Regions from separate parts of the Homo sapiens genome. Here region 2 is linked to region 1. Evidence: fine-mapped expression QTL. A gene starts in region 1. The other region holds a variant in brackets. All regions are shown on one strand. Distances are between the middles of the regions.

Evidence for each region. PIP is the estimated chance that this variant, and not a neighbour inherited with it, causes the effect.
Region 2: its variant is the best candidate, but not a certain one, in a credible set for the expression of IGSF21 in prefrontal cortex (GTEx, PIP 0.68).

Annotation. Positions count from the first base shown.
Region 1 is chr1:18,106,020-18,110,405 of GRCh38, forward strand. IGSF21 (immunoglobin superfamily member 21) reads left to right here and starts at 1,779. Exons shown (of 10, transcript NM_032880.5): 1 at 1,779-2,179. The coding sequence starts at 2,110.
Region 2 is chr1:18,138,163-18,142,548 of GRCh38, forward strand. All of the region lies in intron 1 of IGSF21 (immunoglobin superfamily member 21), which reads left to right. Among named protein-coding and RNA genes, the nearest start is that of IGSF21, 33 kb to the left of the region's middle. RefSeq lists an enhancer at 4,059-4,386. The variant G/A (reference allele first, on the strand shown) is at 2,049.

The DNA of each region.
Region 1 (4,386 bases):
TTTTGGGTTTGTTGACTTTTTCTTGGGTCAGAGTGGGGAGGGAGGGCCAGGGAGGAGGCAGTAAGGGACTGTGCCCTGCAGCCTGAGAAGAAGGTGAGGGGGAGAGGTGACCTCAAGCTGACCCTCAGCAGCCTGGAGAAGGGGAGACCTGGGTGGATGCGAGTGAGAGGGAGCAAAGAACAGCAGCCAAAGGGAGAAGAAAGGACCTAAGACTCCAGTGTTCATCAAGTGTTCAAGCCATATGCAGTCCAATCAACCTGGAACCAATTAGTCTGATTCACAAAAAAAAAAAAAAAAAAAAAAAAAAAAAATCCCACTTAGGGACAAACTGTAATCAAACACCTATTTATAAGGGTTTATTATGATCATTATTATTATTTTACTGAGAGGATCATTCTAAAGCCTGTCAGGTGAACGTATGCTTTCAGATCTTCATAAATGCAAATCGCTCCTTCTGGGGTGGGTGAGCAAGCTGAGCCGCAGAGCTGCCTTGGGAGGCGATGGGGTGAGGTTCCAGAGGGCAGGAGGAGGGAGCAGTTCACTTTCATGGACATCTCTGCACAAAGCTCACCCAGAGGCAGCCCAGCAACCACCCATTGCCCACCCCACTCCCTACACTCCTCTCAGAGGGCTGCTGGAGATGGAACTGGCTATAGACCCATTGCCCATGTAGGTAAACGATGCAACAGCCTGACTCAGCAACCTGCCAGAGCTAGGGAAGCTGGAGATTCTCCATAGAAGGCCTGGGTAAAGGGACCCACCTGAGTTCTGAGCAGGTTTTGCCCCTGGTCGTGCTGGTTTTTCTGGGCTTTGCCAATCTTCTGGGTCCCTACCAATGGTGAAATTCTATCTCCTGAACTTCCTCATCTAACCACATCCCCAGTCCACTCCAAGGGCTAGAGTACCCCTCCCCTTCATCCTCGCAGGAGGCCTCAAAGTCCACCGCCAGGGCTGAGGCTCAATGGTGTGTGTGTGTGTGTGTGTGTGTGTGTGTGTGTGCTCGCGTGTGTGTTGGTGGGAGAGTAATGGTAACATACAAGTCCCAAACCTGTTCTTCTCGGACCTGGGAAGAAAAGCTGTCAGGTCTGGCAAAAAGGTGGAAACTTGGTCTCTGCCAGGAGGAAACAATCAGTTCCTCACCCTTCCTGGCTGGATCCTAGCACATGGGAAAAAGACAGAACACACCCCATTTCCGTGGGTCCCTGGGGGAAGGAGCAGCCGTAATTGGGGAAGTTTCAGAACATGGAAACCCCTTAATCTTGCCCAATGAGGGCATTCATCGTTGGCAAGGTCAGAACTCCAGAGCCACACCCTGCCTGCCCTGCTCCCAGGATGGCATCTTTCCCTCTCGGGAGGGAGGCTGCCTCCTTTCATCAGGCTGAGTAGCGGGGAGGGCGATGGTAATCCCGGGGATAGGAGGGGCTAGGTAAAGGCGGATCCGATGGAGCATAGCTTCCAGGGCGGGGTGTTGGGTCACCTGGGTAAGGGTTAAGAAGCTGGAGGCAGCAAGCCAGTTTTGAGTGAGGGGGGACCTGAGTGAGGGGAGAGGGGAGGTTAGGAGGGGGTGAGCTCTCCTTCTCCCTGCAATAAATCGGCTTAGCGGACGAGAGCCGAACAGCCCAGAAAGGATTAAAGAAAAGTCTGTATAATACGCGGAGAGCGCGGCGAGGGGAGGGCAAGGAGGGCGGGGGGGCGGGGAGAGGGGGAGGGACGGAGGGAGGGCGAGAGGAGGGGGGTGCTCGCGCCGCCGGGAGAGGCGAGCGCGAGGCAGAGAGCGCGATTCGGCTCCAAACTCCGGCGCTGCAGCCGATCGGACTCTGGGCCGCGGTGGGCACCGCGCGCAGCTAGGGAGCCGAGAACCGCGGCGAGCCCCGAGGACGCCCAGAGCGCGAGGGTCGCTGCGCCTCGCAGAGCCGGAGCCGAGTCGAGCCGGGCGCCCGGGCTGCCTGGCCGCGGCGGCATGGGGGCGCCCCCGCGGCTCTCCGCGCTGCCCGCCACCGCCTCGGCCAGTGGCCGGAGGCAGGAGCGCGTCTGAGCCCATGGCGAGGGGACCCGCCGCCACCGCCTCCACCCCCGCCGCCCCGCCACCGCCGCCAGCTCCCGGGCACCATGCGAACCGCCCCGAGCCTCCGCCGCTGCGTCTGCCTGCTGCTCGCCGCGATCCTGGACCTGGCGCGCGGTGAGTGCGCGGGCGCCTGGCGGGAGCCGAGCGGTGAACGTGCGCGGGGACGGGGTGCCGGGGGAGGGCGCTGGCCGGGGTCGCTCCGAGAGGCTCGGGCTACGAGCACCGGTCCTGCCCGGGGTCTGTGGAGCTGGTTGGCTCGATGAGGGAGGGAGGACGCCTCTTGGAGAGCGCTCATGGATTTGTGCCAGGGTGTGTGTGTGTGTGTAAATTGTGTGTCTTTGTTGTGTGTCTGGGTGAGGGTGTCCGGGAAGGAGCTGTGTGGGCAGAAGGTGCGGGAGTGTATTTAGAGATGCAAGTGTGTGTGTGCGTGTGTGTGTGATGGTGTGGGGTCTGCGTGTGAGTGAGCGAGGGTCTGGATGGGTGTTAGAGTGTCTGTGTCAGTTACATGGAGAAGGTGTGTGTGTGAGAGTGTGAGCGAATGTTGGGGGGAGGGTGTGAACATGTGCCACCTTCCCTGTGAGGGTGTGAAGTGTGTGAGCTTGTGTCACTGTGGGTGTGAGGTGTTAGGGGGTGGGTATGTGAGGTTTGGCGTTTCACGTGTGTCCCGAGTGTGCAGGTCTCTAGGGGTGTACGACAGCGGATTACTATTTCTGTGTGCACAGGAGATGGGACTGTGACACTGGACAAGAGTCTGCTTATGTGGGATGGGTGGGGGTGCAGGTGCCTGGGAGTCGTGGGCTTCATGGGGCTGGGAGTGTGTGTATGCGTGCCATGGAGCGTGTGGTTATCGTGTGCAGGGAGGTATGGACGCTTCCGGGGCTGGGGAGTTGTGAGCAGCTCAGTGTGTGTGTGTGTGTGTGTGTGTGTGTGTCCCGCCGTGTGGACTTGCTCCCGGGTTAGGCTAAGACAGCTAGAAGGAGGTTGAAGCCGAGCGGGTTCTCCGGAGCCAGTGAGAGGTGGCTCCGCAGCCCCAGGGTCCGCGGCCGGCCTCCCACCCAGTGCCGCCGCGTAGTGGGTCTTAAATGGAGCTGAACCCTTTCGCGCAGTGAGCAGAGAGCCAACGTGAGGCTAAAAGCCAGGAGGGAGGGAGGCGGGACCAGCGAAGAGCCGCAGGCACCGAGACTACAGGCTCCGCGTCCGGGATCCTCCTCGGAGCCTGGTGCCAACCTCAGCCTGGCTGGAGTCAGAGCCTGGCTCCGCCTCGGAGGGGAGCGGGACGCGAGGTGCCAAAAAGTCGTCTTTATGATCAATAAGGTCTCGACCCCGAGCCCCACTGGATGATAGAGGTGGGCATCACCTCTGTCCTATGCCATAGCCTTGTCCCAGCAGGAGGTGCCTACCTAGGCTCTGAGAGTGCCTGCCAGGAAGGGGTGCCCCCTTAAAAATAACCCCAACTCCTTCTACCCCGAAGTCCTTGGGGAGTGCTGGGTCTGCTGATGGGAGAAGCTGCAGAATTTGAGCCCGGAAGGTGGTCCTGACAGCGAGGGGGGAGGGGTTGGTGTAACCCAGAAGGAATGCAAACCCTGTACTTTGTTCCCCTACCCTTGGAACAAGAGACTTTCCTAAGTGGATCAAAATGTCCCCCCTCAACTTTGGGAGGAGGGCTCTAGAGGGAAAGGTTACATGGGGGAGGTCCTCGTTCCAGCGCCGCCGAGAGGGCACTGGGGTTTGTTGAAAGGCACTGGAGCCCTCACCTGGACATTGCAGGGGGCGGGGGTTGGAGGCTGGGGACCTAAGGTAAGCACCCCTTTCCCTGGGAATGCGCAGAACAGAGAGACGCGGCAGGGTGAAGGAGAGGACTGATGAGAAGGGCTTGTTGGGAAACCCTGGCTCCGTCAGGACCCCACCCTGCGAGCTCTCCCTGGAACCCGGGAGCAGGGTTCTTCTGGCTGCCCGGCTGCAGAGAGCTGACCCGGCATCCTGACGCCTCAAATCCCTTTGCCCGCCTCTGCGGGCTGCGGGAGGCGGGGGTTGGCGTGCCTGAGGGTGAGCGCATCTGGGCCGGTGCAGCCAGCGCGGCCTCGGAGCTCCGCTGCTCAGGATGAAGGAAGAGCGCAGACGCGGATCGCGAATGGGAAACTTTCCGCGTCTGGGGCGCAGAGGGAGATCCGAGGCAGCCGGGAGCCCTCTCTTCTCCGCAGAGGAGAGCACACGAGGGTGGGGTCCCTCCTTCCTCCTTCCAAGTCTGTGCCCAGAATGGGGGGCGGGGTGCGAGAAGAGTCCGTGAGAGACGCAAGAGGCGGGCTGTGCCGGAGGAGGGC
Region 2 (4,386 bases), 32 kb after region 1:
AGCCAGAGACAGTTTGCTCTGGAGCCCCAAGCATGGGCTACAGAACCAGTGAGCTTTAAGATCCTTATCTCATCGAGGAAATATAATAATCCCTCGCAGGACATGTGGCCTCACTTTCTTCATTTCCACAGCTTTGTCCAGCTGTTTATCTCAATCCATCCTTACGATGGCCTGAGAAGTAAGCAGGGACCAGTGGGGTGTTGCTTGATCACTTGCTTCTTTGGGGTCTAGCACGGGGGACCGTATTCCTACTACTGCTACTGTTATTGCTTGCTTTTGGGGTTCCCTTCAAAGCAGAGCCAGAGAGAAGGATTTGGATGCAGGGGTTTATTTTGGGAATGACCCCAGGAGGTAGCAGCAGGAGGGATGTGGGCTGGGAAAAGAAAAGCAACTGATGCGGTTTTCACTTTTGCTCTCTCAGTGAGGGAACCGCTGACAGGCAGTGTGGGACATACTCTGAATCACCTGGCAAGGGGCGAGGAAGCTGGGGTACTGATCCTCTAACCCCCACCTCTCAGTGACCTGCCCCACACATGGGCCAAGTGCTCTCACAGCAGACTTCTTTTAGGTAAAGAAGTGCAAGATGCCAGCTTGGCATCTGCTCCCTCGCCACCACCATTAACTGAGCACTTACTATGAGCCAGGATGCCCGCTAAGGCCCTTCCCTGAATTAGCTAAATGTCTTGTCAATGGACATTATTGTCCTCTTTTTACAGATGAGGAAACTGAGGCCCAGAGAGAGCCACAAAGAGAGTCTGGGAGAGTTGGGATTCAGACCTGTCATTTTGTCTTCAAGCACTTAGTAAGCACCTGCTGAGTGCCAGCCAGTGTGCTTGGTCGTGGCTTTGCCGTTAAAACCCACATCCTTACCCACTGAATTCAATGCTGCTGGTGCAGGAGCGCTCTTCCCTCTTGGGTGCAGAGTCCATATTTTCTGGATTCTCTAGGATGGTCCCAATGGCAACACTTTTTATTCTTTTCAATAAAGATAATTTGTGGTATATATAACCAAATGCACTCTAATGTTTAAATCTTGGTAACACTTTTTGCATGAATAAATTCACTCTTCCCTTCCCACTGGGAGTGCTGTGTCTAATGAGAAATTCTCATTTGGGCTGGGAAAATGCGGTCGCTGAACCAGAGGGATGGGAGCCGGGGCATCTGACTCAAAGCTCAGGGTTCCGGGAGCTGTCTACGTCACACGATGATGGGGCCAGTTGGGTTCCTGAGCACCTCCCCCTGCTGGAAGATCGTGCAGGCTCCCTGGGCGATCCATCTCACCCACCCTCTTCCCAGTGTCTTCGGCCTCCCAGAGCTTCTTGCTCCCATTCCAGAGCCCAGGGCCTTCCCCTCTGTCTTCATTTTTCACCACCCTCTGCAGTGCTGTCGTCAGGTCAGGAATGGACCACTGTCAGGCAGTGTGGCTCAGTGGTTATGGTCAAAGGCTCTGGGACAGGTCTCTGGGTTTGAAGGCCAGCCCCACAACGTGTTGGGTGTGTGACCTAGGCCTCATTATCTGGATGCCCTAGGCTTCAATTTCCTCATCTGTGAGATGGGGTTAATATTGTAGCAGATGCTGTCAGTGCCTGGCTGTACTCTCTGTATTTCTCTCCACCCGCCAAAGTCTGCTTACTGTGAATGAAACTCATTGCCTGAGGCAGCATCCCTGGCCAGTGCACAGGGCAGGCCAGAAGTGCAGAGAGCTAGGGCTCCTGGAAGCAGCTCTCAACCAAGGACAGACAGGGAGTTCGAGAATGAATATCCCAACTTCCTTTTTTTTAAAAAAAATAAAAAATTTTATTTAGACAGGGTCTCGCTCTGTCGCTCAGGCTGAAGTGCAGTGGTGCGATCACGGCTCACTGCAGCCTCAACCTCCCCAGCTCAAACAATCCTTGCCTCAGCCTCCTGAGTAGCTGAGCCTACAGGTGTGCACCACCGTGCCTGGCTGATTTTTAAATATTTTTTGTAGAGACAGAGGTCCCATTATGTTGCCCAAGCTGGTCTCAAACTTGTAGACTCAAGCGATTCTCTCCACTCGGCATCCCAGA[G/A]TGCTGGAATCACGCAGCTTCCTTGCTGTTGGTGTTGATACTTGGAGGTGTATCTTCTACCCTGTCTCGCCTAGTTCCCCAGCAGGGTGGAGTTCTAGTTGCCTGCAGGAAAGCTGGCTTAATGCACCCAGTATCCTGCCCTGCCTTCCTGCTCCCTCACTGATGTTTCCTGGGTCACTTCCCGAATAAGCTACCTGCATCTGAATTATTTTCTCACAGTCTGCATCTCGGGGAGCCCAAACCAAGCCTCAATGTGCCTAGAGTGGGGGCAGCTGTGGGGATCACATGGGTGAGGATCTGGAAAGCACTGGAGGCGGCCGCATATGCATGCTCCATGGAAGCGGGCACTCCCACATCGTGGCTCCAGTTCCCCAGCCAGACCATGCTTCACAGTCGCGTGTCTGCTCCTGCTGTGCCCTCTGCCTGGTTGCCTTCCCATTCCTCTTCACCTGGCTCATGCCAAGACATCCTTCTGGACTCAGCTCAGTGGTCACCTCTTCTTGGAAGTCTTCCCTGACTACGCCCTGTGCTTGGCTTGGCAGGGGGGATCCCTCTTCAGCATCCACATAGGCTCCTTCCACTGTCATGGCATTTACACCCAGGATTACCATCCTCTGCGGGCTGCCCCTTCTCCCCACTTATTCTTTGAGGCCTGAGACCACATTTCTTTGCTGCCCAGCTCTCTGGGGGAGGAGGTAGCCCAGGTGTGAATCTTGTACACCCCTTAGCCCTCTGCTCCCTGTGGCCTTTGACCTGTGTCTGCACACAGGAACCCAGCAAACGTGGCACAATGAGGGCTTAGCATCCATCTGAGGAGAGCACGACCAGAGTGAAGCACCCCAGTCTCCATGCCTTCACAACCTTTTCTCTTTCCTCACCACCTCGGGGGTCACCCAGCAGGACAGGATGCTGGGACAAGTGGAACTGAAGGCTGGGCATCCAGGCTGATGGGAATTGGCTTTGAGAAGGAAGGATCTTAAGCTCAAGGTCTCATCTAGTCGGGAGGAAGACAGGGAGGAGGAGAGAGAGAGTTTAAAGCTCTGAGACCTTGCTTTGTCTTGTTTCTATTTATTATAATGACTACTGTCATTATTATGTAATGAGGTGAATGGTGGGCCAAAGTTTTGCCCACCTGCCAATGATGAAAAAGAGATAGGTTGACTTTAAAGCAAGAGAAGCTGCAGTCAGACAAAAGAAGGAACTTCCCACTTTCTGGTTGAGCAGGGTTGGCTGTCATCAAGTTCTCAGCAGGCAGAGAACTTGCTGGAACACAGGGATGTAGGGCAGGGGGTTGGGGGAGAGGCTGACACACAGAGGACAGGGAGGATGCTGTGGATCACCAGTAGCCACTGGGGCAGGAAGAAGCATATGACTGAGAGTGAGGGACCTGGAGAGCTAATTCTCTGCTCTACTCTCAACTTGCTGGATGACTTTAGGCAAGTCGCTTTACCTCTCTGGGCCTCCATTTCCTTATTTGTAAAGACGGGGACAATAATACATTCCTGGACAACATCTCCAGCTGTTTCACAAGTTATTAGATGGACATACACTTTATACAATTTAAAGCACAGTTCATGGCTGGGCACAGTGGCTCATACCTGTAATCCCAGCACTTCGGCAGGCCAAGGCGAGCCGATTGCTTGAGGCCAAGACTTTGAGACCAGCCTGGGCACCATAGCAAGACCCCCATTTCTACAAAAAATACAAAAATCAGCCGGGCATGGTGGTGCATGCCTGTGGTCCCAGCTACTTGGGAAGCTGAGGTGGGAGGATTACTTGAGCCCCGGAGGCCTAAACTGCAGTGAGCCAAGATTGTGCCACTGCATTCCAGCCTGGGCAACAGAGTGATACTGTCGCAAAATAATTTTTATATGTATATGTATATATAAAATAAAGCACAGTTTGGATGAAAAATAAACAAAACCAAAACCAACAGGGTGAGGAGAGAAGGTGAGAAACAAGCACGTGCTTCTCTTTCTCTAGCAATCCGTATCAGGACAAGGGGACTCCATTTAATGAACAACTACTCTATGACTAGCACCTATAAAGGCCTTAATCCTCACAACAGCCTATGTAGGAGGCTCGTCTCCATTTTACAGATGAGAAGACTGAGGCCCAGAGTGGTCAATTAACTGGTCCAACCGGGATTAGAACTCAGGCCTCTCTGACTCAACGCCCTGGCTTGTTCCGCCTTTGCCACATTATTGGAGCTGTGATGGTCAGATGTTCTACCCTTACTTGATCACCTGATGGTTCTTCTCCCCCTGCCCAAAATGAAGATTAGGATACAAGACCCAGGAAGTCTTCCCTGGCCCTCGGGCCCTCCCTGCCCCTTCCC